3 linked regions of the Homo sapiens genome follow. The protein of the gene in region 1 purifies or fractionates together with the protein of each later gene. This does not show direct contact. Each region holds a gene or a part of one and is shown on either strand. Other genes may lie near its edges. The genes, in order: VPS33A, TGFBRAP1 and VPS41.

Region 1 (6,542 bases):
GGGCTGGGCGCGGTGGCTCACACCTATAATCCCAGCACTTTGGGAGGCCGAGGCGGGCAGATCACTTGAGCTCAGGAGTTTGAGAACAGCCTGACTAACATGGGAAACCCCATCTCTACTAAAAATACAAAAATTAGCCCAGCATTGTGGTGCGTGCCTGTAATCCCATCTACTTGGGGGGCTGAGGCAGGAGAATTGCTTGAACCTGGGAGGCGGAGGTTGTAGTGAGCTCAGATCATGCCATTGCACTCCAGCCTGGGCGACAGAGCAAGACTCTGTCTCAAAAAAAAAAAAAAAAAAGTTATGGGGCAGGCTCGGTGGCTCATTCTTGTAATCCCAGTATATTGGGAGGCTGAAGGGTCAGATCGCTTGAGTCCAGGAGTTCGAGACCAGCCTGGGCAACATGGCAAAACCTTGTCTCTACAAAAAAAATGGCCAGTGGTAGTATGAGCCTTTAGTCCGAGGGGCTGTGGTTAGAGGATCACTGAGCCCAGGAGGCGGTTGCAGTGAACCATGTTTGTGCCACTGCACTCCAGGCTGGGCTACACAGTAAGACTCTGTCTCAAATAAATAAAGATGTGGGAAGAGTGGAGAGGCAGTGCAGTGGGGAGCCCTTGCCAGCCACGGCCTGAAGGACAAGGAGAGGGGGGTGTTCTAGAAACTTGTCTTAGAACCTGGAGAGAAGAGCTGTGGTGAGGCCATCTGGTGAGGTAAGGGGTGAGGGGCCTCTGGCTGAGGGTATGGTCAACCTCCAGCAGAGGAAGCTGGCCAGTGACAACGTCATCCTCACACTGCTGCCCACTCTCCAGTTCACTCTGGTGCTTTGTCTTGGTCAGACCCAAAGAGAAGGCATTGGAGTGTGTTGGTGTGGGACGCACAGGTCCATCTCCGGGCACAGAGCATTGCGGAGAAGGGTGGAGAGTGTCTAGAGGAGTCAGTGGAGATGTCCAGCACTCATAAACAAGCCAGCCATGGCCAGGCGCGGTGGCTCACACCTGTAATTCCAGCACTTTGGGAGGCCAAGGCAGGAGGATCACTTGAGGTCAGGAGTTCAAGACCAGCCTGGCCAACATGGTGAAACCCTGTCTCTACTAAAAAATACAAAAGTGATCAGGGCATGGTGGAGCATGCATCTGTAGGCCCAGCTACTGTACTCAGAAGGCTGAGGTGGGAGCCTCCCAGGAGGCTGAGCCTGGGAGGTTGAGGCTACAGTGAGCTGAGATTGCACTGCTGCACTCCAGCATGGGCGACAGAATGAGACCCTATCTCAAAAAGAAAAAGAAAAAGGGAAAAAAAAAGCTATGCAAAAGCAGGGCCATCAGGGCCAAGTGAGTTTCCTTCCACAGTTTCCCCTCAGAGGCAGCCACTGTGGCCAGTTTTTTATCTATCCTTCCAGAAAGATTCTGTGCATATACATTTTTACATAAAGAGTGCATATTCTCTACTGTTGGTCTCCAAAGTGGGGTGCACTTTGCTTTACATTTATTACTTATTCTAATGTTTCTAAATTTCAGTCTTTTTTGGTTTTTCATAAGGAACTTTATTAGGCCGCCTCTTGCAACAAAAGCTCATAACTAGACAGTCTCCTCTGTCAGGAGCAAAATTAAATGATTTTTTCCCGGTGGGAAAATAGAGACCCTTAATGTCTAGAGTCTATCATGTACATATTAGTTCAGCTGTCTTCACTGTTCTGACCTTTCTGACTCTGGACCCACCCACCACTTAACAAAGGATCTTGAAGGGTCTTCTGTGATCTTCCCCTTCTTTTTAATTTTTCTAAATTGCTACATAGTGGTTTTGAGGCTATACCTTATTTAATGATTTAACAGATTGCTATTGATAGAAATTCAGGTTGTTTCCAGTCTTTACTGTTACATGCAGTGTTGCAGTTAATACGTTTATACTTTGGTCTATTATCTTTTGTTCTGCAAGCACCTCTGTAGGATTAATGCCTAAAAGTAGAATTGCTAAGTTCAAAGGTTATTGCACATCATTGCTCAGCTAGGGAGTGCCAAGTTCCCCCCAATATGTTTCATGCTGGCTGGACGCGGTGGCTCAGGCCTGTAATCCCAACACTTTGGGAGGCCGAGGCAGGTGGATCACCTGAGGTCAGAAATTCAAGACCAGCCTGGCCAACATGGTGAAACCCTGTCTCTACTAAAAATACAACAATGAGCCAGGAGTGGTGGTGCACACCTGTAATCCCAGCTCTTTGGGAGCCTGAGGCAGGAGAATTGCTTGAACTAGGGAGGCGGAGGTTGCAGTGAGCTGAAATTATGCCACTGCACTCCAGCCTGGGTGACAGAGCCAGACTCTGTCTCAAAAAAAAAAAAAAAGTTTCATGCCAAACCAAATAATTCTTCATCTTCTGTACCTAGAGCTGCTTTGAGTGGCTTTTCAAGATTTCAGTCAAAATTGAAGCTCTGGCTGCTAAAAATTGAGCCCAGCTAGGGTGGATTAGAACAAGGCATGGCAGGGGTGGGGGTTGTATATCTTTAAATCCAAATCAAATAATTTTGGATTACCCAAAAGGCCACAGTCAGGTAGCTCTAAGTCTCTGTATCTATAGGGTTTTTGTTCTTTAATTATCTCACAGAACCCCACGGACATATCGTATGTGTACAGTGGGTATGCCCCGCTCAGTGTGCGGCTGGCCCAGCTGCTTTCCCGGCCTGGCTGGCGGAGCATCGAGGAGGTCCTCCGCATCCTCCCAGGGCCCCACTTTGAGGAGCGGCAGCCACTGCCCACAGGACTGCAGAAGAAACGTAAGTCCCAGTCCAGCATCTACAGATAATTATGTACTGTTAGTGTGGTTTTCAGGTATTGTACAGTTGCTTTGTAAAATAGTAAAGCACTTAGGAGTCAGAATTAAATACACCTCTTTTGTTCGTTGCTAATGTATGTAGTAAGAACTCGAATCGGATTATTCCCTGAGGGATAGCAGCTTTCAACTTCTGTGTTGAGAATCTCAGAAGTTAAAAAAAAATGTTGAGATCAAAATCAGTATTCTTAGGTTTCAGATGAACTGTCTGGATGAAGGCACTTGTTTATTCTTATGAATGATAAAATGTTTGAAGAGGTGGGAAGAGAAGCATTAATAATAAATAGTTTTTAATTCTGAAATGTTTAAATTTTAGGTCAACCGGGAGAAAACCGAGTGACTCTGATATTTTTCCTTGGGGGCGTAACCTTCGCTGAAATTGCTGCCCTGCGATTTCTCTCCCAGTTGGAAGATGGAGGTACAGAATATGTCATTGCCACCACTAAACTAATGAATGGAACCAGTTGGATAGAGGCTCTGATGGAAAAACCTTTCTAGGATGTTCAGAGGAGACTTAACAAGTGTACTGCAGAATAAACTACCTCTTTGAAGAAATTGCTGAAAGGAAGTAAAACCCCATAGAAGAAACATGGGAATACAGAATATATTCTGGGGTCAGCTTCTTAAATTATACTACTGTTTACTGCTTTCTCCGTCTCTTTTGTATTCCCTTTTTTTTTTTCCTTTGAGACGGAGTCTTGCTCTGTCACCCAGACTAGAGTGCAGTGGCACGGTCTCACCTCACTGCAACCTCCACCTCCTAGGTTCAAGCAATTCTCCTGCCTCAGCCTCCTGAGTAGCTGGGACTACAGGCATGCACCACCACACCCGGCTAATTTTTGTATTTTTAGTAGCCATGGTGTTTCACCATGTTGGCCAGGCTGGTCTCAAACTCCTGACCTCAGGTGATCCACCTGCCTCGGCCTCCCACAGTGCTGGGATTACAGGCCTGAGCCACCGTGCCTGGCCCCTAATCTGCTGAAGAAAGAAGAATAGAAGAAAATCAACCTGAGTAAAAGCAGCACTGGTTTTGAGTTTTCTAAGCTCAGGGTCTTCATTAGAGACCTCTGGAAATACATTAAGGATGGTGGGGGTAGATAATCCATTCAGCCAGACAAACGGGGCCAGCTCTTAAAATAAGAAAGCTGAGACTGAGGAGGTGAAACTGAAAATAAAAAGAGAAAGTTCATCCTCTAATCCCCAGTGCTGTATTTCTTCAAGGCGCATCAGGCCTAGGACAGTGGTTAAGTGTTGGGAGCTGGAGATCATTTTATCACTGAGTTGAGATTTCTTTTTCCTGCAGAGTGTGGGAGATTATATTTAGGGTCATCAGTCACTGTCGCAACTGATCACTAAGGCAAGTTTGCTTCCTTCTACTTCTTACAAAGCAAGAGGTTTAGGGGAGCTTCTTGCCCAGAAACAAAGTTTATGCTCTATGTGATCAGCTACATCTCCTTAGGTTCCATACTTATCAGGGGCTTTTGACATGGAAGAATGTGATAATTGGGGAGCAACCTTCTGAGAATTCAGCCTTTGAAGTAATTCAAAGACAGTTTCTTAGCACACACGTTAACTCCAGACACAGCAGTGGTGGGTGCCTCCATTGAGGTTTCCGTTTTCTCTTCTGTCCATCAAGGGCCCAACATCCAACTGGTCCCACAGTGAGCAGGGGCAACTCTTGCTTCTTCAGCATCTGGCCACTTCGTTTCCATGGTAACTGCCACGTGTACTTTTCTAGCAGTCTGTGGCCACTCCGTACTCAGCTGAAAACACTGTTTCAGCCCCCTCTCTGGTGACCTCAGCCTTCTCCAGGTGTATCTCTTGATGATCTTGGAGACCAGCAGCCACAGCTGCTGCTACTCCTGCAGGAGACTGTCAGGCTGTGGTGGGGGGCAGGGGTGTTGGAGGAGAAGTTGAAAATCCGTGTGTTCTCTGCCCCTCTGCTCCTCCATCTTAGCTTCTGGAGGAGTTAAGGCACCAAGGGCACCAAGTCAGGTTGGCAGTTTTGCTGCCCTTGCCCAAGCCTCCAGCAAAACTAGCTGGTCCCCTGCTTTGCTGGGTCCCAGCCAGGTGTGATTTTGGTTGTTGATTAGTAACCACACATTGTTTTTCCCCACCTTTTTCATTAGTGGAGGTTTTTGTTTTGTTTTGTTTTTGTTTGTTTGAGACAGAGTCTCACGCTCTTTTCAGACTGGAGTGCAGTGGTGCGATGTCAGCTCACTGCAACCTCCACTTCCCGGGTTCAGACGATTCTCATGCCTCAGCCTCCTGAGTAGCTGGGATTACAGATGTGCACCACCACACCTGGCTAATTTTTGTATTTTTAGTAGAGATGGGGTTTCACCATATTGGCCAGGCTGGTCTCAAACTCCTGACCTCAGGCGATTGGCCCACCTCGGCCTCCCAAAGTGCTGGGATTACAGGTGTGAACCACCGTGCCCGGCCCATTAGTGGAGTTCTGATGGGCACGGTAAATATTATTAATGAAAGAGAAATTCTGTATACTTTTTTAAAAATCTCTTTAATGAAAGAATGAAGAGTGGCAGAGATAATAATTGAAAGATTAGTTTCTCATGGAATTAATTTGGCCTTGATATTCAGTATTTGGAAATGTCTTAAAGAAAACCATTTTCATTGTAGAAAATCCTTTTTTAAATACTTGTTATATCCCAGGGAGATTAGTTTATACCTTCCACCTCAGGCAGTCATCAGCTGCTTTAGAGAATGGAATCCACCCTGCCCCTCCATTTTTTGGTTCCTGGGGCTCAATTCAAGTCTGGTCAAGTCTCCCTGGCTGGGGATTCTGTCCTGGGAACAGATACTCAGTTGTAGTCTCATGTGTCTGCACTCACCCAAGACTCTATATACTTGCTTGCTCAGAGCATAGTTAGGGCAGCTCCTAAAAATGCATTCAGCAGAAGACTGAAAAACTTCAATTGCTTCATTTGTATGCAAATAGAAAATGGTAGATAATTATATATTATACGCCTTTGTGTAAGTTCATTTAATACTTGAAGCAGTCTTTGTCTCAAAAGAGTATGCCCTTACTGAGAAAGGATATGTGAACGGTACATTTATTGTTGGGGAGAGTGGATTGTTTACATCATGTCTGGACTTTTGTCTAGTTGGGTAGACAGTTCTACACCAGCAGCCCCCTTAATAAAGAAGTCTACACAGACACTGTTTTGTGTCTTGCTATAGAGTGTTGAATTCTAACCAACAGAGAATTAAGTATTTTGTTAATTGTGGAGCAAAAGAGTAATGGTTGAAAGAGGGATGATTTAAAACAGCACATTTAATTCTCAGAGAAAACTGGGACAGTCTCATTGTGAGTTCTATTCGATTCAGATCTGCCCTCACTGCAAATGGATTATGATTAAGCATGATGTGTTGGTCGGTCTTGTTCTCAGTTGTACACTAAAGACCAGCCTGTCACCAGGAGGAAGTGTTTGTATTGAGCAGAGTTTAATTCAAGAAGAAATTATTTTTTTGAGATGAGGTCTTATTCTGTTGCCCAGGCTGGAGTGCAGTGGCACAATCATAGCTCACCACAGCCTTGAACTTCTGGGCTCAAGCAGTCCTCCTGCCTCAGTCTCACGAGTAGCTGGGACTATAGCAAAGCACCACCACACCCAGCAATTTTTTTTTCTTCCTTTTAGAGACAGGGTCTTTGTTGCTCAAACTCCTGGCCTCAAGAGAAATAATTCTTTTTTTCTTTTTC
Region 2 (7,111 bases), on another chromosome or scaffold:
GTTTCTGTGTACATTTGTAGAAAAAGATTTGTATTTTTACATTAGCATCTTTAAAGATGCTGACTAAGATTCTGACTATCACCAGTGGCAGAATCTTTAAAATGACAATGTGCATATTCTTAACCTGGTAGGAAATAATTACTAATATTTTTATTTTGACCCTTAGCATGTATTGCTTTATACTATTACTGATTTATTTTTCTAGTCCTATTTCCTTAATAGGACGGGGAGACTCTTAGGAAGTGGGATTGTGTCTTGTAATTGTTTAGTTTTTTGCAAACTTAGAGGTGCTTGCTGCATATGCAAGGTTAGCTTAATTAAATTATGGTCCTTGAGCATCCTAGCATTTTCCAATCTCTTCCCTACCTGGGTATGTATTTTGAAATTTTAAGAAAACATTAAAATGTTGATCTTTTAAATTATTATAATCATACTTTTAAAGTGAATTTTTTAAATTTAATATTCTTATTTTTTTTAAAAATAGAGACCAAGTCTCAATATTTTGCCCAGGCTGGTCTTGAACTCTTGGGCACAAGTGATCTTCCTGCCTGGGCCTCTCAAAGTGTTAGGATTATAGGTAAGCCTTAAAGTGAAGTTCTAACAAAAAGTTTAAATTTTCGATCATTTTGAGATCACACAGTAAAGTATGAATTTTACACCTTAGAGAAACGTTTCCTTTTGAAACATTACCATGTTGAAACTTCTCTGATTCAGAACCCCAGCAAGTTATATTTAATAGAGGTGTGGCCTAAAGTTTATCTTTTTATGATTCATATTTTATCTAAGTAAATATATCATGTGAATTAGATCATGGAGAGAATTTTCCCACTGCTTAAAAAAAATAGTTTTTTAAATTAATTTTTTTTTTTTGAGATGGAGTTTTGCTCCTGTCACCCAGGCTGGAGTGCAGTGGTACGATCTCGGCTCACTGCACCCTCTGCCTCCCAGTTCAAGCGATTCTCCTGCCTCAGCCTCCTGAATAGCTGGAATTACAGGTGCCCGCCACCATGCCTGGCTAACTTTTTTTTGTGTGTGTATTTTTAGTAGAGACGGGGTTTTGCCATGTTGGGCAGGCTGGTCTTGAACTCCTGACCTCAGGTGATCCGCCTGCCTCAGCCTCCCAAAATGGTGGGATTACAGGTGTGAGCCACCACTCCTAGCCAATTTTTTTTTCTTTTTTCTTTTTTTTTCTGTGTGAAAGCATCTCACACTGTTTCCCAGGCTGGAGAGCGGTGGTGCAATCATGGCTCACTGAAGCCGCAAACCACTGGGCTCAAGCAACCCTCCTACCTCAGCCTCCTGAGGAGGAGGGAATACAGGTGTGCCCCACCAGGTCTGGCTAAGTTTTTATATTTTTTTTGTAGAGACAGGGTTAAGGATAAGTCATTTTTAAGTGCTAGCATGTTACTTCTTCAGCTTTCATTTACCTCCATGTAATTCTGCATTATTACCATTTAATTACCAAAGCAAGTCCTTAATTTAAAGGCCTATAATAGGAAGCTTATCTTTAGCAAGGCTTGAATAACAGTTTACTAGATAATGAAACAATATTGCATTTGTTTTTAAATATTATAGAGTTATGACTTTTTAGTAAACCATATGTTTTTTTGTTTTTTGTTTTTTTTTTTTTTTTACAGCTCTCTCTCCCTCTCCCCTTCTCTATCTACCCCAGGATTTAGACTAAATATGAGGCGTTTGATTCTTTCTATAATATTCTTTACTGCAAATGTGTTTAGTTTATCCCTTATGCTAACTGAAGACAGGGGCTGGAATTATGAATATTATACTTTTAAGAAGCTAAATAAAAGGAGTTTGATTGTAGGTGCCCAGAGTTTGTTTCTCTATTCCTTCCGCAAAGGGAGACACAATTTATATTTTAAATGGCAGAACTGCTTACTCCTGCCATTTAAAAAAGACAACCCTGATTGATTAATCAATGAAGGAAGAAGTATTTTGTATTACTTCACTTTCACTAACTTAGATGTCTGGAAGCTGACATTTCAATATCTGGGTTTTACTCATTAGCTCTTAAATGGAGAAAAAAATGTTGTCTAGGTGGGTTTTGGTGGTTATGTTTGGTTGGGACAAATACATGATGTTGTTTAAGAGCTGTTTGTGCCAGAGACTATTTGTAGAAGCCTGCAAGAGTTCTGCACTCGGCCTCACCTGGGATTCTGGGGATGTTCCCACAGCCCCGAGGTAGATGGACATGATTCCTTCTCTGTGGTGCCTTTAGAACCTCCCTCTACACTTCCCCCAGCTCTTTTCCATAGTTTCTGTGAAGATGAGCTCCCGTAGGTGAGTGTGAAGATGTCTTAGGGGTGGGGCAGGTGTGTGAGTGTGTGTTCTGGCTTATGATGCAGGCTGTGTTTTGGCGGAGGTGAACAGGTTACCCATATCTGAGGACAGAAGACAGCATAGTCTAATCTCTTGGTGCCCAGCTTGGGAAATAAACACCTGAAGCAAGCTGGTAGTTTGAGAGAGGAGTGAGAGCTGATCCAGACTGGGAGGGAATCATAGTATTTATGATGAGATCCAAAAGTTTGAGTGCTGTGTGCCAGCTGTCCGCATTTTATATGAGGTCACTTACTTAATCGTCCAACAATCCTATGAAGTAGGTACCGTTATTCTCATTTCACAGATGAGGCAGTTGAGGCTGGAATAGCCAAGTGTCCATTCCAGCTGCTGTAACAAACTACCATACACTAGGTAATTAATAGATAATAGAAATGTATTGCTTACCGTTCATGGAGGCTGGGAAGTCCAAGATTAAGGCATGGTAGGCTCAGTGTTTGGTGAGGGCCCATCCCTCAGGGGTGGTGCCTTGCAGCTGCCTCCTCACATAGTGGATGGAAGGAACAAATAAGCTCTCTGGGGCCTCTTTAATAAGGGCACTAATGCCATTCATAAGGGCTCCACCCTCATGACCTAATCACCTCCCCACCTCCCAACACTACCACTCTGGGGATTAAGTTCCAACATATGAATTTTAGGGGGACACAGACATTCTGACCATAGCACCAAGTAATTTGCTCAAGTGATGGGAAGAAAACAGGAAGGACTGATGTGTCTACAGACAAGCCTCCTCCTCAACCCTGGGGTATCCTCCCTCCTGGGGGTTTTGTAGAGCTAAGGAAGGGGGCTGGAGTCTCACTTGTGTGTAGCTGTCATTGCCCCCATGGATGGGGGCAGACACAAAATTGTAGAATTCCAAATTTTCTATTTGAAAGGCACCAAAGAAGTTCTCTGATTCCTTCCCTTCCCTGATGCGTGAACCTTTCTTGAATATTTCTGAGAGGTCTTCCCTGCTTTGCTGGAATGCCTCCAAGTATTAGGAACTTAAGCTCTCATGAAGCAGCACTGTTCCATGTTCAGACAACTTGAGATGAGGAAGTGACAGTGATAGCAGCCTTTCACTTCAAGCTCTCTGAACATGCAGCAGTGCTGACGCAAGCCCAGCCAGCTGCCCTGCAGCTCCCGTCATTCTCTGCAGTCCTCTTTCCAGCTCTCTGATCCCCTGCCCTGCTCCCGCTCACAGGGACTGTGCCTTTGAGTTTGCTTCTGGCTGCCTGAGAAGTCAGAAAGGCCACCTTGCCTGATCTTCTCCCTGTGACTTTGTGGAGTGTGAAGCCACAGTTCTCTGCAGAAGATGAAGTAGGAGGCGACGGGCTAGTGTGTGGGAAAGTCTCACTTCCAATGGGAGCCAGGGACCGGTCGGTCCACACATCCACTAAATAGCTCCACTCACCATCTGAAAGCCTTTCGAGATCCGAGGCACACCTTTACTCTCCACATGAATACATTTACTCCGGAGCTGAGGCTGATGCGCCTGCCTTATTGGGAAGAACACAAAGGAATCCAAGGCCTGGCGTCTGCCTCGGTGTTCCTGGCAGGATCCTGTGACTGTGGTTGTGTTCATTGACTAAAGTGCATATTCAAGTAGCTGTAGAAACTCAGGGAAGATCAGTGAGGATCATTTCTGCCTTTTTCAGAAATCCTTTTTGTTTTTTTTTTTAAATGGGGTCTCATTATATTGCCCAGGCTGGCCTCCAGCTCCTGGGGTCAAGCCATCCTCCTGCCTCACAGAAATCCTTTTGTTATGTTGCCCGTGGGTGAATGCATGCATTTGTCTTCTGCCTTCAAGCGTGTCTCCCAGGAGCAATGTGAGGAGGCTCCAGGTGACTCTGTGTGGGGACTGAGCAGGATGGCACGTGATCACAAGCACATACATATGTGTATATGGGTGTGTGTGTGTGTATGTGTCTGTGGTTTTCTTCTTGGGTCTTCTGCTGTCTGATGGGGGAGGTCTGTGGGGAAATGGTTTCTTTCCATTTTTTGATAGCGTGGAATGACTTTCTTTAATGAAAATGACAACTAGGGAATCCACGTATCATTATTGCAGCCTCTGTTTCTGCTTCTTCCTTGTTCCTCTAAAATTAGTTTTCCTCTTTCTCTTCCAGCAGATCAGCCAGTAGACATGATGAGCATCAAAGCCTTTACGCTTGTCTCTGCTGTGGAGCGGGAGCTGCTGATGGGCGACAAGGAGCGCGTCAACATAGAGTGCGTGGAGTGCTGCGGCAGGGACCTCTACGTGGGCACCAACGACTGCTTCGTCTACCACTTCCTGTTGGAGGAGAGGCCAGTGCCTGCTGGGCCAGCCACGTTCACTGCCACCAAACAGCTGCAGAGACACTTGGGCTTCAAGAAGCCCGTGAACGAGCTGCGTGCGGCCTCAGCACTCAACAGGCTGCTGGTGCTGTGTGACAACTCCATCAGCCTGGTCAACATGCTGAACCTCGAGCCAGTGCCTTCGGGGGCCCGCATCAAGGGGGCAGCCACGTTTGCACTGAACGAGAACCCTGTGAGTGGGGACCCCTTCTGTGTAGAAGTTTGCATCATCTCTGTCAAACGCAGAACCATCCAGATGTTTCTGGTGTACGAGGACCGGGTGCAGATCGTCAAGGAGGTGTCGACTGCCGAGCAGCCCCTCGCTGTGGCTGTGGACGGCCACTTCCTGTGTCTGGCTCTGACCACTCAGTACATCATCCACAATTACAGCACAGGCGTCTCCCAGGACCTGTTTCCCTACTGCAGTGAGGAGAGGCCGCCGATCGTCAAGAGGATAGGGAGACAGGAGTTCCTGCTGGCGGGCCCCGGAGGGCTGGGTGAGGAGGATGCATTTGTGCGCCTGATCTTTTTGGGTGGCCTCGGTGACTGCGTGTTGAAACTGGAGAGTGAGATTGGCGCTGTGCAGAATAAATCCTCAGTGACATTGGGCGTGTGTGGCAAGACAGAGGTAGCAGTGCTTGACCAGTGCTTGATGAAATCCAGTTCGATTGTTCTGTGAACGTGGGGTTGGAGTCATAAAACCAGTTTCTTTCACATTAAAGTGGAGCTTGAAGACAGCTCTGGTGGTGTTACCGGGAAGTGGGGATATTCTCAGCCCTTAGTCATCTTGGGAGAAAGATTTTGGCCAAGAGACAATTCAGAGATAGCAGAGAGCTTTCTGAAGGGAAATAGAGAACAGAGAATTTATATGGAGAGAGACAGTACGTTCTGAAAGATGAGGCAGAGTGGGATGCTGAGAGAGTGAGCCAGCAGCCCTGAGAGTTCTGCATCGGGTTTTTATGATGCTGGAGTTTTTCTTGAAGTTCCCACCTCTGTCTTAAAGTTTCTGCCTTTTTCCTTTGTCTAGTTTTCCCGCTTCTGCCTTAAGTCCCCACCTTTTCCTCCCACCTAATTTCTACTCTAAGCTTGTGGGACCCTCTCTTACTAGTAGTTGGTGCACATGTACAGCCGGTGTTGGATGTGAATCCCACCTAATGGCTGCATTGCTCATTACCTCCACCCCAGGAAGGTTGTACAGCGGTTAGGTCCATACTTACTGCACCTGAATGTCTCTTTGGAATTTCTCCTTTACCCTCTTTCCCTCCTCTCTGCTCATATCTAGCATGCATGTTTTGTTTGTTTGTTTTGTTTTGAGACAGAGTCTCGCTTTATTGCCCAGGCTGGAGTGCAGTGGCACAGTATCGGCTCACTGCAACCTCTACCTCCCAGGTTCAAGCGATTCTCCCTGCCTCAACCTTCCAAATAGCTGAGATTTCAGGCATGCACCACCATGCCTGGCTAATTTTTGTATTTTTGGTAGAGATGGGGTTTCACCATGTTGGCCAGGTTGGTCTTGAACTCCTGACCTCAAGGGATCCACCCACCTCGGCCTCCCAAAGTGCTGGGATTACAAGCATCAGCCACCATGCCTGGCCAGCATGCATCTTTTTGATGGTCTCTGGGATGTGGGATTTTCCAGACCTCCCTTTTCTCAGGGGCTCTTCCCTCCCATTCATGTCTAGCTAGCTATCTACCCACTCTTAACAGTGGGAAAATTCTTTTAAGTAAATAACTACAAAAATAACTCTGGGCTGGGCGCAGTGGCTCACGCCTATAATCCCAGCACTTTGGGAGGCCAAAGCAGGTGGATCACCTGTGGTGGGGAGTTCGAGACCATCCTGACCAACATGGAGAAACCCTGTCTCTACTAAAAATACAAAATTAGCCGGGCATGGTGGTGCATGCCTGTAATCCCAGCTACTCAGGAAGCTGAGGCAGGAGAATTGCTTGAACCCAGGAGGCAGCAGTTGCGGTGAGCTGAGATCACGCCATTGCACTCCAGCCTGGGCAGCAAGAGGGAAACTGTCTCAAAAAAAAAAAAACAAAAAACAAAAAACAAAAAACCAGAAAACTCCGTAAGGGTTCCTGGTAAGATTTTCCCACAAGAGTGGGTTGTCATTTGATTGTTTTTGCTCCTCATTCTAAAAAGTTGTTGAGGCTGGGCTAGGTGGCTCACGCCTGTAATCCCAGCACTTTGGGATGCCGAAGCAGGCAGATCACCTGAGGTCAGTAGTTCGAGACCAGCCTGGCCAAAAGGTGAAACCCTATCTCTACTAAAAATACAAAAATTAGCCTGGTGTGGTGGTGGGCACCTGTAATCCCAGCTACTCAGGAGGCTGAGGCAGGAGAATCACTTGGGCGGAGGTTACAGTGAGCTGAGATCGTGCCACTGCACTCCAGCCTGGGTGACAGAGTGAGACTCTGTCTAAAAAAGTAAATAAAA
Region 3 (7,111 bases), on another chromosome or scaffold:
AGCAATTAGTTCTGCAGTGGACACCAGCTGGATGTCCTCTAATTCAGTTCATTCTGACACTGTCTACATGAAGATAGCATCAGTTCCTGCAGGCTGAGGGCTCAGGCCCACAAGACTGCCCCCACTTCAGACATACCAATCACAAGTTATAGGCTGTCACCTGTACTTCCGACTGGTCAACTATAAACTGGAATTCCCACTACCACCTCCTTAGATTTGACTCATTTGCTAGAGCAGCTCATAGAACTCAGGGGAACACTTTACTTACATTTACTGGTTTATTATAAAGAATATTGCAAAGGATACAGATGAACAGCCAAATGGATTAGATGCAGAGGGCAAGGTATGTGGGAAGAGGCATGGAGCTTCCAGGTCCTCTTTGGGTGCACCACCCTCCAGGAACCTCCAGGTGTTCAGCTCTTGGGGAGCCCTCCAAAGCCACTCCTTTTGGGTTTTAATGAAAGCTTCATTACTTAGACATGATTGATTTAAACACTGGGCCATTGGTGATCGGTGTAACCTTCAGCCCCTCTCCCCTCCTTGGAGGTTGTGGGGCAGGGGTGGGGGTAGGGCTGAAAAGTTCCAACCCTTTAATCCTGTCTCAGTCTATCCTGTGCCCAACCCCATCCTTAAGTTACCTAGGGGCTGCTAGCCACCAGTCAGCTCATTAGCATACAAGAAGACACATCATTTTAGAGATTCTAAGGATTTTGAGAGTTATATGCCAGGAAACAGAAGGAGGACCAAATGTATATTTCACAATATCACAACTATTATTCTGTTGAATGAGTGTTCTTTTTCTGTTTTTCACCTTTGGTTAGGGTTTTGCCACATTGATCCGAGAATGGCCTGGAGATCTGTATAATAATTCAGTCATAGTTCAAGCAGTTCGGGATCATTTGAAGAAAGATAGTCAGAACAAGACTTTACTTAAAACCCTGGCAGAATTGTGAGTATACTTAAGTGTTTCTTTTTCCATATCAGTCTGTGTTGAAAAGTTTTTCATACTTTAGATTTGGCAAACTCCAAGTGGAGAAGATGTATTTTATACCATTTTCCTACATTCCTTCTTAGTAAAAACCTCTCATAAACCTCAAATGAGTAGGCGATAAGGACATGTGTGAAACTGTACAATTGCAATGTAATCTGTTTCCCAGAGAAGAGAACCCCTAACGCACAGCGCTTGGGAGAGGCAGTGGTTAGGAAACAAAAGGGTGCCAAGTTTTAGATCACTCAAGCATAACAGTTTCCCAATGAGCAAGGCTCTGGATTCTGCTCTTCTAGGGTCTTCAAGTCAGTTAATTTAATCTCTCAAATGTCAATTCCTTATGGGAAAATTTTAAACTTTAAAAGAGATGTCATAATAGAGGACTCCCTGACCCTGAGTCAGGGCTCAGAAAATGGCAGCTTGGTTAATATTTTTCATATTTCTTGGGCACATTCAGTGATGCAGGCTTTGTGCGAGACGCTTATGATACAGAGATAGATAAGATATGCTCTCAAGTACTTCGATCTAGGGAAACAAGAAGTATACTGCAGGTCTAGCCAAGACGACCATCCCTGCATCCACCTCTCCTCAGTGCCCCCATCACCTCAGGCCACTCCTCTCCCTTGTTTTTTCTTCTTTTGCCCAAAACCAAAAAAGGTATACCAAAATGACCTAGAACTCTGGACGTGTTGGATTTTCCACAAGAGGAGGTTGTGTTTATGGCATTCTAAGTTGAAATGCTAATCATTTTCTCTTGGAAACGTTGTCCTGTTAGATACCCCTTAGAGTCTGCAGCACGTTCGTAATGGACCAACAGTACAGCTTCAGTTCAGTGAGCTCTCAAGAGCTGACTTAGGGACTTAATGTGAAAAACATTGTTTCAATGGAAAAACACATTTCAGTTAGACACAGCCCCCTTAAAATCAGCTTTTGGAATATTAGCCATTTGTCAGCTGAATACTGCTTGTAAGAATTGGAACGGATGTTTCTGTTACTAAAATGAGAACTTCATCCTGGATCCTAGTTTCTTTGCTGTATGGATGTTTGTAAAACTTTTGAGACTGAGACCCCCAATAAAGACCATTTTTATTACTTGAATATTGTGAATTTTCTTAAATTTTGGCAACATGAGAGGCAAAGTTCTGAGAAAGAAATACTTATTGGTCGTGTATAGTTAAATCCTATTCAAAAATAGGAATATTTTTTGAAATAAAGTTAACTTTTCTCTCTAAAGGAGTGTTTCCATTTTTAATATTGTGAACCATGATCTCTCTGTGTGTGTTTTAATTAGAACTGTTGATGAATATTAATGTAAAAAATTTGTATTACCAGGTACACCTATGACAAGAACTATGGCAATGCTCTGGAAATATACTTAACATTAAGACATAAAGACGTTTTTCAGTTGATCCACAAGCATAATCTTTTCAGTTCTATCAAGGATAAAATTGTTTTATTAATGGATTTTGATTCAGAGGTAATGTGCTTTTTATTTTAGTACTGTCAATTATTTTTACTATTCCAAATATTTAATACTTAGATATCTATCCAAATGCTGGATTGGTGAATGAATCACATAACTTGGCTTTATGCCGACAATCTTTAGAACACTCTGACCCTCGCTAGATGTTGTTATTCTAGTTGTTTGGCATTCAGGAATCCTTTTCATAATGTAGTTATTCTGTGAAAGCAATTCAAAGTTGATAGAGAACTTTTAAAGTTGTGTGTGTGCGCATATAAAGTAATTTCTTGCTAAAACAATTCATATAATTTATAGAAACAAACCACGTATATACTTTGACTCATTTATCCCTCCTAACCTGTTTTCCAGAATTTTAAAATTAAGTGAACTTCCATCTTGACCGACTTATTACTATTTTATTTCTTGGTGTTCACGTATCCAGCATGTGGGGTTTCCCCTGGTTTGAGGTGATGCTCATGTCCAGGACATGTGGAATGTTATTTTATTGTGTGACAAATTTGAATAACCTAATAATAAATTTACGCCCCCTAATGAGTGGACCCAGCCACAGCTCACATTGGTGCTTGCAAAGTGATGCAAGCTGTGTGTGTGTGTGTGTGTGTGTGTGTGTGTGTGTGTAAAAGAAATCTAATTACAAGTGCTCATGACAGAAATAATGAGGTTTATAAAACAGTGTTCTTATTCAAAAAATTGAAATTTTAGATAAACCTAAAAGTAGAACCCTAAAGGCTCCAAAAGGATTAATGCATTTTTCAATTATATTGTACTGTATTTAGAGATATTGTGTGCTATATTAATCTCCACCAACTTAAACTTAATTTAGATAGGAGCTAGAGCTACGTCTTTTTCTCAAAGATGCTTTAGCCCTTTTTAAAATACTGAGTCAAGTCTTTAGGGACTACAGATTTACGAAGAATTACGTAGCTCCAAGGAAGTTCAGGTAGAGAGGCTCTGCTTGTCTGGCAGAGGATGAGATGCTTATGTAAAAATTAATTACATTTTCCTCATATCTAGTCTCCCCTCATGCACCCCCTTCCATTGTTCTCCAGAGCTCGTTTTGCATATGTTCCTGTGGAAAAAAGATGAATGAGCTGAAACTAATTGCTATTCTAGAATGTGATCCAGATGTAAGGAATCAGAGTCTTCTGGTTAGAAGAGACCTTAGGGATAATCTACTCCAACACCCTCGTATTTCAGAGAACAAAAGTAACATTTGGAGCAGACAGCTAGGTCGTAGCAGAGTCTAGAACAGGGCCCCCAGGTGTTCCGTGTGAGGCTCAGTCTGGTGTGCTGCTTTCCCTCTTCCTCTTGACATAAACTGTCTAGTTTGTGTTTCCTGAATGATAAAAGTGGCTAAAGTAAATTCTGAAAGTCCAAAAGCTTTATGTCATTATGAAACTTCAGGTATCTCATTCTCTTTCTGACTCTTATTCCCTTCTCCTCATAAAACCAGCTCCTTCTGTCTGTGGAGTCTCATAGGGAGACTAGGTCGAGGTTGAAGTAGCTGGAAGAAAAGCTCATTTTCTTGATATACTGGTAAAGAGATGCTCTCCATAACTACTGAGAGTCTCATGAGAAGGTGTGAAGGTATCCGAGACATCGGAGGGCGGGGGGCTAGGATATGGGCAGTCAAGATGTTTTGTATTTGGGAAGTTATAGCAAAGCACCATTTTAGTAGTGTGCAAAACACATAGGCTTCAGATTGAGATGCATTTGAAAATGCAGTTCTTCACAAATGTCATTTTCCATAAGAGCCATTGTAAAGCCAAGGGCCTCCTTAAGTATACAAAATAAGCCTTCCACCTGTGAACTGTGGTAGGTACACTGCATTGTGTTTAGTCTTCTCTTCTTAAATAACGGATTTCATTGACTGTGGCTTTTCTTATATGTTTCAGAAAGCTGTTGACATGCTTTTGGACAATGAAGATAAAATTTCAGTGAGTGTCATTTGTTTTTATATGTGTTACCAGATGAACGTCTGGGACTCCTATAGCTGTGAAGAAGAGAGTTTATCAGATAATTTTGTAGCTGTCTTTCTGTCCTCATGACTCCACCTTGAAACTTTTCTTTTTTATCTAGATTAAAAAGGTAGTGGAAGAATTGGAAGACAGACCAGAGCTACAGCATGTGGTGAGCATGGCAGTCTCCTCCTTTTGCCCTTTTGATTGACCAGTGGGTGAATCACCTTTCAGTATTGGTGCGAGGAGGATACTGGAGTGAATTCTTCAAGGAGGTTAATATTCCAGTTGGAGGTTTCACCACAAACAATGTTCTGTAATTACCAAAATGCAGCATATGCTGTGAATTCAAGGTCAGGGATTAATTGTAGATCAGGCAGTTGAATTTTGACCCACAATTGAATTGTGATGGAAAAAAGTTACCAATCTATCTATTATATTACTATAATATAAATATATGTAACATAACTATATATTTAACTATAATGAATGTTTTTGTGTTATGTTGTGTCTAGGAATAAGCACTCTCCCTCTGTAGTTGCCATTAAATATAACCATGGCATATATCACAGTAAAGGCCAGTATGGCACCGCAGATACTGTACCAAGTTCTCCTGCTAAGGAAATGTCAGACAACCATTCCATATCCAGACCACAGAGCGATAAAAGGGCAGAGTCTCATTTCTTTTGTCCCTCACCATGACAATAGCTAATTCCATATTTCTTGTGTGCTATTGGTGGTTGTGTAATTAAGGCCTGTTATTCTAGATTTCTTTGGGGGGCTACTTCAATTCTCTGCATTGCATCATCATGAGAGTAAAGCAGGAATAGTTGTTTTCTATGTCCTTTAAAAGTTATACAAGAGAAAACTTAGCACACTTAGGGATTATATCAGTAGGACTATGGGTATCAGATACAATAAGTGCACTTGTATCTTTGCCCATCTCATTGCACCCTAGGAGGAGGCTTAGGGAATAGAGCATTTTTTTCAAAAGTCAGTTTTCTGCTTTGAAGCTTTTGAAGACTGCAGGAAGGGAATGAGAGGCACCTTTTTTTCTCTTTTGCTCAGATGCTACTGCTGCATTGTTCATGATTGGAAATCTCAAGATTATCTGCTTCCCAAGCAAGGCTCCACATTGCTAACCACCTTAGGAATTCATTTATAAAGCAGTGATTTCTGACTTACTTAAGCCAGGAGACAGGATTATGGGCAGTAGCTCTCTGTGCGACAATGTAATCAGTGCAATGGTGAAGTGGTGGCACAGCCCACACTAACATGGCTCATCTTCCCTGCCAGGCAATGTCTTGTTTCTATATATATAAATTTGACTCAGCATTCATGTGACAGGGCCTCCCTGTCCTTTTTGCACTCTGGGAAACAGCACCACATATCCCCGCTAACACACTGACCCCAGTGCCAGTGGACTGGCGGTGGTGTTCATCAGACCTCTGCCTGGCACATGAGTTCAGTCTACTGCTTGTACTGCTCCGTTTTGCCTTAGGAAGAAGTGAACAGGAAGCCTGAAGATTGGTTTCTTAAGGTGCATGTGTCCATGGTTAGGCGTCATTGTGACTAGATTCAACAGCAATAACAAACATCAGCGCATTTACAGTCTCAGCTGCAGGGCGGCTGGTGCTCTATGTCTGTTATAAACCAATCCACTTGGAAACAGCAACCCAAGGTGTTAATGCTCGTGGGATTGGTGATTAAGTCTTCCTGTCTTCAGTAGATTGTGGGGTTTTTGTTTACATTTAATATTAACTAAACATTGAATTGTTTTTTGACTTCTGAGTACTGTATTGATAGACTTAATCTTGCCTGTGAGGAGAAAGTGAATTACTGATTTCCTGTGAAGTTAACTTTTTTTCAGACAGCTAAGGTAAGGAATCAGTTTTGAAAACTGTTTCAGAACACCTGCATTCTTCTTGATTTTTACTTTGTATTTTTGTTTTTGATGTTACCAGTTTAGGCAGCATTTCATTTGAAGAGTCAACAAAGAGGAGATGCAGAATGTATGGAAATGAGTTTAGTGCCCGCTACTTGAGTTTTTAAGAATATGTGCTTGTCCCAGGACTCTACCCTCTTTTGTGTAAAATAATTTTTATGATCTGGGAAGACCACTCATCTTTTTATTTCTGAGCCAAAGCAGATACCAATGATGATATTGACAACTACTGTCATTAACATTTCTGTAGTTCTTAGTGTATGCTAAGTTCATTGGTTCTGAGTGATTTCGTAATGGCAACTCGTTTAATTGTCACAGTAACTCAATAAAATTTTTGTAGATAAACTGAGTCTCAGAGAGATTAGTGACTTGCCTAAGGTCACAGTTGGTACGTGGCAGAGTCAGGTTTTGGGGCCCTTCTAGAGAAATTATCGGAATCCTTTGCTCTCCCAAAGGGTTTTCCTTTCCACTTCTCCATCACCTAGAGGTTTTCCCTGAAGACTGCTTCTCCCCCAACCTGTCCATGGGAGGTGTTTAGAGCTAAAAATAGCAATGTTAGCCAGGTATTGCTTTTCTCATTTTAATGGGTCACGGCTTATCTTTTGTTCCTTTTAGTATTTGCATAAGCTTTTCAAGAGAGACCACCATAAGGGGCAGCGTTACCATGAAAAACAGATCAGTCTTTATGCTGAATATGATCGACCAAACTTACTTCCCTTTCTCCGAGACAGTACCCA

The links.
Region 2: the proteins of VPS33A (region 1) and TGFBRAP1 purify together in Homo sapiens (co-immunoprecipitation; 5 studies listed by BioGRID and IntAct, with this or other methods). This does not show direct contact.
Region 3: the proteins of VPS33A (region 1) and VPS41 purify together in Homo sapiens (affinity purification with mass spectrometry; 7 studies listed by BioGRID and IntAct, with this or other methods). This does not show direct contact.

What each region holds. Positions count from the first base shown.
Region 1 is NC_000012.12:122,229,023-122,235,564, reverse strand, and holds the end of VPS33A (vacuolar protein sorting-associated protein 33A), read left to right. Parts: intron 1-2,596; coding exon 2,597-2,765; intron 2,766-3,137; coding exon 3,138-3,319; 3' UTR 3,320-6,001; downstream 6,002-6,542.
Region 2 is NC_000002.12:105,305,668-105,312,778, reverse strand, and holds part of TGFBRAP1 (transforming growth factor-beta receptor-associated protein 1), read left to right. Parts: intron 1-4,460; 5' UTR 4,461-4,477; coding exon 4,478-5,165; intron 5,166-7,111. UniProt on the Homo sapiens protein: Plays a role in the TGF-beta/activin signaling pathway. It associates with inactive heteromeric TGF-beta and activin receptor complexes, mainly through the type II receptor, and is released upon activation of signaling.
Region 3 is NC_000007.14:38,752,192-38,759,302, reverse strand, and holds part of VPS41 (vacuolar protein sorting-associated protein 41 homolog), read left to right. Parts: intron 1-821; coding exon 822-949; intron 950-2,320; coding exon 2,321-2,465; intron 2,466-4,366; coding exon 4,367-4,408; intron 4,409-4,550; coding exon 4,551-4,601; intron 4,602-6,989; coding exon 6,990-7,111. UniProt on the Homo sapiens protein: Plays a role in vesicle-mediated protein trafficking to lysosomal compartments including the endocytic membrane transport and autophagic pathways. Acts as a component of the HOPS endosomal tethering complex.